Regions from separate parts of the Homo sapiens genome. Here region 1 is linked to region 2. Evidence: fine-mapped expression QTL. A gene starts in region 2. The other region holds a variant in brackets. All regions are shown on one strand. Distances are from middle to middle.

Region 1 (2,898 bases), 44 kb after region 2:
CTCCAAGGGCGCAAACATGGGGCTAGATTTCTGTGCATGGGGGAGGAGGAACTAGGCGTTCAGACTCGGGTCTGAAGGGCGAAGGGAGGGGCTGGGATCCTGGACTCTTAAACCCTGGGAGAAGAGAGGGTTGGGGGCCCCAATCCCCTAATCTTGGACTCGAGGTTTGAGGGAGGAGGATGCTGGGACCTGAATTTCTGGGTCCCGGGAGAACAGAAGTGGGTGTCATACCTAGGATGTGGCTGCTGCGAGTCTGTCCCTTCCCACAGAGATGGCCCAGGAGGACCCAGGGCGGACCCCTCGGCTTGGGGGTCCGCCCTGGATCCCTGTCTCGGCTCTGGGGGCATGTACTGGTGGTATGTCAAGTTCCCCCTGGGCTTGGACTCCCTCCAACGTTGGGAGATCTTGGGAGACTCCTGAAAGAGCAGGTGTGATGTTTTAGGCTTCAGCGCGGCTCCCACCTTCCGGCCCCAGGACTACATGCAAAGTATGGGGTCAGCTCGGTGCCACCGAAGAGGAGCAAAAATGGCAGCAGCAACAAGGGAGACAAAGACTAGGCTCTCAGAGGGACCTCTCCCTCCAGTCGAGACTCACCTTCTTTGGGGACCTCCAAGGAGGACAATATTCTGGCTCGGGGAGCAGGACCCCAGGGCTGAAGAGGAAAGGGGCCGTGCCCGAGGGCAAGGCCGGGGCCAGAGGAGGGTCTGAGGCTGAGATCCACGGGTCCGGATCCGAGACTGGAGAGACGGTGAAGGACCCTGAGAGGCCTGCAGGCAGCAAGCCAGGCCGGGAGGAGCAAGGCTGTGTGGAAAGCGGGGCTCCAGGGTGCCGGAGGGCAGGCCAGGGAGCAAGACTTGATTGCTGGGAGATGGGCGCCTGAACTGGATCTGAGGGCGGAGGTGTGGGGGGGCTCCGGTTGCTACATTCTCAAGTAAAGCAGGAATTTTCTATCACAAAGGGGTGTGGTAGCTGAGGATCACAGATGTCTGAGGTTTTGCTAGGACAGGGGTGGGGCCTGCACTCCTGGTTCTTGGGGAGAGGGAGAGGCTGAAAGCTACATCCAGGCCGGCCGCGGTGGCTCACGCCTGTAATCCCAGCAGTTTGGGAGACTGAGGCGGGCGGATCACTTGAGGTCAGGAGTTCAAGACCAGCCCGGCCAACATGGTGAAAC[T/C]CCGTCTCTACTAACAATACAAAAATTAGCCAGGCGTGGTGGCACGTGCCTGTAATCTCAGCTACTCAGGAGGCTGAGGCAGGAGAATCGCTTGAACCTGGGAGGTAGAGGTTTCAGTGAGCTTAGATTGAGCCATGACACTCCAGCCTGGCGACAGAGCAAGATTCCATCTCAAAAAAAAAAAAAAAAAAAAAAGCTATATCCAGAGCTTCTCATGTATACCAAATGTGGAGACCAGGATGCCTGTCTTCTCCAAAGAAGCAGGATCCAAGTTCAAGCATCTCATTAGGGTGGAGAAGCAGGAAGCAGAGCTCCTAGGGGTGGGGTGGCCAGAGACCTGGACCCTGGATCCTTGGGAAAGGACAGGATGGGATTTTGGTCTGTCCCAGGGGATGGAGACTGAGCTGCAGGAACCAATGAGGGGTATCTGGCAGCTGTATTCCAGGATATCCCAGTGGGGAGTGGGGGGTCACCATCCCCTCCCTTTTGGGGCCCATACTTACTCTGCTCCTGATTCCGTCTGTGGATCCGAAGCTGGAGGACTGTGGAGGGAGGAGGGAGGTGGGAGGAGGAAGGCGGGAAGGGAGTGTCCAGGAGCCTGGCCTGGCAGGCTGGTGGGAGCTGCAGTTGTTGGCGGGATATGCGTGCCCAGCCCCCTTACACAGCCTGTGCAGGCGGGTGGGCGGGCAGCAGGCTCCCTTCCTCGGGCCTCCCGCCTGCTCCCTGCCAGCGCAGCGCCGCGGGCCAGCGCCATTCTGGGGCTACGAGCCAGCCAGCGTGCAGGCTGGAGGCAGCCCTGCCCCCGGCTCCACCTGCCCCCTCCATGAGCAAGCGTGTGCCCACCCCACCCCCTGCGCAATCGCTATCTTGGCAGCCTGGCCCCTTTGCACCTCGCCTCCCTTTATCCATGCACTCCTGCTACTTTCTGTGCTATCTCGGGGCCTTCCCACAGTCAACACTCTCCGCATATCCACATTTTCAGTATGCATCTCTCTGGGCTCTAGTTTTGCACACATGCCATTTTTACGCACTTGCATGTTTTTGCAGACTCTTCATCCTTGACTCACTCTGCCTCAGCATCCATGTTAACACTGTTTTTTTTTCCTTTTTTTAATTTGTTTTATTTTTTTAGAGACAAGGTCTCACTCTGTAACCCAGGCTGGAGTGCAGGGGTGTGATCATAGCTCACTGCAGCCTTGAACTCCTGGGCTCAATCCATCCTCCCACCTAAGTCTCCTGAGTACCTGGGACTACCTAAATTTTTTTGTTTTGTTTTTTAATTTTTTGTAGAGACAGGGTCTTGCTGTGTTGCCCAGGATGAATGTTAACTATCTTTTTTTTTTTTTTTTTTGAGACAAAGTCTCGCTCTGTCACCCAGGCTTGAGGACAATGTCACAATCTCAGCTCACTGCAACCTCTGCCTCCCAGGTTCAAGCGATTCTCCTGCCTTAACCTCCCAAGTAGCTGGGATTACAGGTGCTCACCACCACACCCGGCTAATTATTATTATTATTATTTTTTGAGACAGAGTATCGCTCTGTCACCCAGGCTGGAGTGCAGTGGTGCGATCTCAGCTCACTGCAACCTCCACCTCCCGGGTGCAAGCAATTCTCCTGCCTCAGCCTCCCCAGTAGCTGGGACTAGAGGTGCACGCCGCCACACCCGGCTAATTTTCTGTATTTTAGTAGAGATGGGGTTTCACCGTGTTGCCCAGGCTGGTCTCGAAC
Region 2 (2,898 bases):
CAAAGACAGAGGAACAGACAGGAGGCTGAGAGGCTGAGACAGAGGCCAGGCACCCAGAGGCCACAGGGAGCTGGGAGACTGAGGCTCGGACTGCCTGGGGGCTGGGATAGGTGGGCAGGTGGGCTCAGAGACACCCAGCCTGGCAGGCCCTGGGGAGGGGAGGGAAGGGGACAGGCTAGGGGTGTCTGGCGGGGGATCAGAAGTGAGAGACCGAGGCCCAGGCCTGCAGGGATCAGAGCCATTGCCTTTCCCACATGGGGCCCTAACCTTGTTCTCCACACCCTGGGCACGGAAGGGGATTATCACCAAACAACCCAGCCTCCCTGCCACCCGCCCACCCACCCCCAGCGCCCCACCCTTAACCCTTTCCCACCCGAGTGCAAAGCCCAGAGAGCTGAGCTGAGGAAAGGGATGCTGGGAGCTGGAACCTGGGTGGCTCTGGGGCTTGGGAGCGGGACAGTGGGATCCCCATGGGGTCAGGGGAAGCAGACACCTGGGTTCCCTTCAGAACTCAGGGTGTGGGGACCGGAAGTTAGCGTTCTGGGACTTTCTGCTCACCTCAACCCTGCCCTCTATTCTGGGCCTCAGGGCCTGGAGACCAGAGTCCCCACATTCTCCACCCATCCAGAGTTCCCCAGAGCAGATGGGGGAACAGATGTTGGGGGCGGTGGGTAATGAGGAGGAGAGAGGCAGGAAGGCAGGAGCTGGGACAGGGTGGGGTGCCAGATGCCAGGGCGCCCGTGGGGGCAGAAGCCCAGACCCTAGGAATGGCAGGAGCTGGGAAGGACTGGACTCTGAAATGCCCCCACTTTCCCCTTCCAGGGCCAGCAGCCTCTGGTGAGGAGCTCACTGTGGACTGGGGGCCTCGGAGCCTTTCCAGGCCCTTGGCTCTGAATCTGCGCCCAGGAATGTCCCTGGGCTGGGCATCTCTGGGGCACCCTGGCGGTTGAGGTGGGCCACACCTGCCCCAGCCTGGCCTCACTGCCCATGTCCCCACTGCTGTTGGCCACATGCAGACGCTGCCTCCCCTGGCCCAGATGACAGGCCTCGCCCTCCGCCCTCCCAAGGAGCCTGGCGCCATTTTGCACCCACTCAGGTGGCAGCCGCCTGCCTGGCCCTCAGCAGCATCCTGTTAAGGGCCAGTCCCCCATGTCCCCTTTCTCTCTGGATAGTTGCTGGATAGTTCAGGGGGTGGCACCCTCTGGCCCTTAGCACCTTGAGGAACCAGGCTGTGAGTTCCCTAGTGTTCCTGGGGGATCCAGAAACCAGTCGTGGCCCACAGAGAGCCCATACCCCTCTTTAAGAAAGAGTCCAGCCATGCTCCCAGCAGACTCATAGGAGGCCTGCCTGGGCGGCCTGGGGTCCATCTGGGACCCAGGCTTCCTTTCCCTGGCTCTTGGCATGCACCCCCCAACCCGAGCCCTGAGGCCCCGACATTGGCCAAACCTGCACTCAAGAAGAGAGCGTCCTGCAGCCAGTTCCCCGCAGGCTCTTCCTCCAAGCTGTGGCGCGGTGGGCTCTCAGGAGGGAGTGGCGTGGCTGTTCTCAGGCCCCAGGCTAGTGGGGTTTCTGGGCTGGGCGGGGGCTCAGAGCAGAGCCCGCAGAATCTAACACCGCCACCCCCCTCCCACCCCAATCCCTCACCAACCGCAGCCACGCTATCCCCACAGGGACCCCTGCCAGCCAGGCCACCCGCAACGGTGTGGGACGTGAGTGCCGTTGCCCCCGGCGGTCCAGCAGCAGGACAGCCCCGAGCAGCCTGGCCTAGGAGGCTCACCGCAGGTAGGACGGGAGGCTGTCAGTCGGGGGTCCCGCTCCATCCCACTCCACCCCTGCCCACTGGCTCAGCCCCGCCTTGTGGTGGCCGCCATCGCGATCGGGCAGGGGCTGACCTTTGGGAGACAATCGCTGTTGGAAACTTTGCTCAGCCCCTGCCTCTGGCTGCGTGACCCCAAGCCAGCCCCTCCTCCTCCTCTCTGGAACCTTTTGTCAGCTGTGGGTTCACCGAGCCTTAAGGTCAGTAAAATCTGTGCTCTTGGAAGGTTCAGACCAGCCCCTGGAATTCAAAAGACCTCAGTCGCTTTCTAAGATGGTGGGGAAGGCGACAAATGAGCTGAGAACACCTGGGCCCCAGTGTTTCTCATGCGGCAGAGGGAGAAGGCGGGGACCCCCGGGGTGCGGGGGACCAAGCTCAAAAGCACCTCCCCAGTGCCGCTGGTGTCCTGCGAGTCCTCAGTGCTTTCATCGTGACATTTTCATGCGAATGTTGCTGTCTGTTCTATTCCATCTCCGAATGGGTTGACTAGAAAAATAATGTTTTCTGTCACTTCCCGCTGAGAAAAGCAAGGGCCTCATGGAGTTGGGGCGCGGCACCTGCTGCCCTGGGTGGCCCCAGCGTTTATCGTGGTGTAGCGTGGGCCCAATCCTGACAGGCTTGGGACCCACTGCCCCAGGCCCGCCCCCAGGGGGTGCGAGGGCACAGCAAAGGCGACCCTCGACTCTGGACCCTTAGGTACCACGTTGGAGGGGGCCAGATTTGGCAGGAGCAGGACAGGGACATCGGATTTGAAAGAAGGGAGTCACTCCGAAAGCTGGGAGGTGCATCAGCTGCAGGAGGATGGAATGGGGCTGAGACGCCCCCCATCAGAGGGGGCATGTCAGAGCTGGGGGCCCAGGCTGTGTGAGTCAGAGTGGAACTTCGGGATTCAGGCGCAGGTCCCTCCGCTGACCCTGCCTGAGCTCCCCCTGTATGGGACTTTGCCGGGGGTTCGCGCTGGGAACACAGACCCCTGCCCCATCAGGCTCAGTGTCCAGAGAGGGAGGGGGAGACCCCAGCAGCGCAGGTCCTTCTGTGCTCTAGGTTGTTGGAAGGTGCCAAGTGCCTTGGAGCAAAGCAAG

Evidence for each region. PIP is the estimated chance that this variant, and not a neighbour inherited with it, causes the effect.
Region 1: its variant is fine-mapped to the expression of NTN5 in whole blood (TOPMed, PIP above 0.99). The same link has a PIP of 0.9 or more in substantia nigra.

Annotation. Positions count from the first base shown.
Region 1 is chr19:48,715,031-48,717,928 of GRCh38, forward strand. MAMSTR (MEF2 activating motif and SAP domain containing transcriptional regulator) reads right to left here. Exons shown (of 10, transcript NM_001130915.2): 3 at 1,675-1,713; 4 at 595-737; 5 at 232-416. Among named protein-coding and RNA genes, the nearest start is that of MAMSTR, 3.2 kb to the right of the region's middle. The variant T/C (reference allele first, on the strand shown) is at 1,172.
Region 2 is chr19:48,671,486-48,674,383 of GRCh38, forward strand. It overlaps NTN5 (netrin 5), which reads right to left and starts at 1,532. Exons shown (of 7, transcript NM_145807.4): 1 at 1,447-1,532. It overlaps LOC105372431 (a long non-coding RNA gene), which reads right to left. Exons shown (of 3, transcript XR_936016.3): 3 at 1,661-2,302. It also overlaps the pseudogene SEC1P.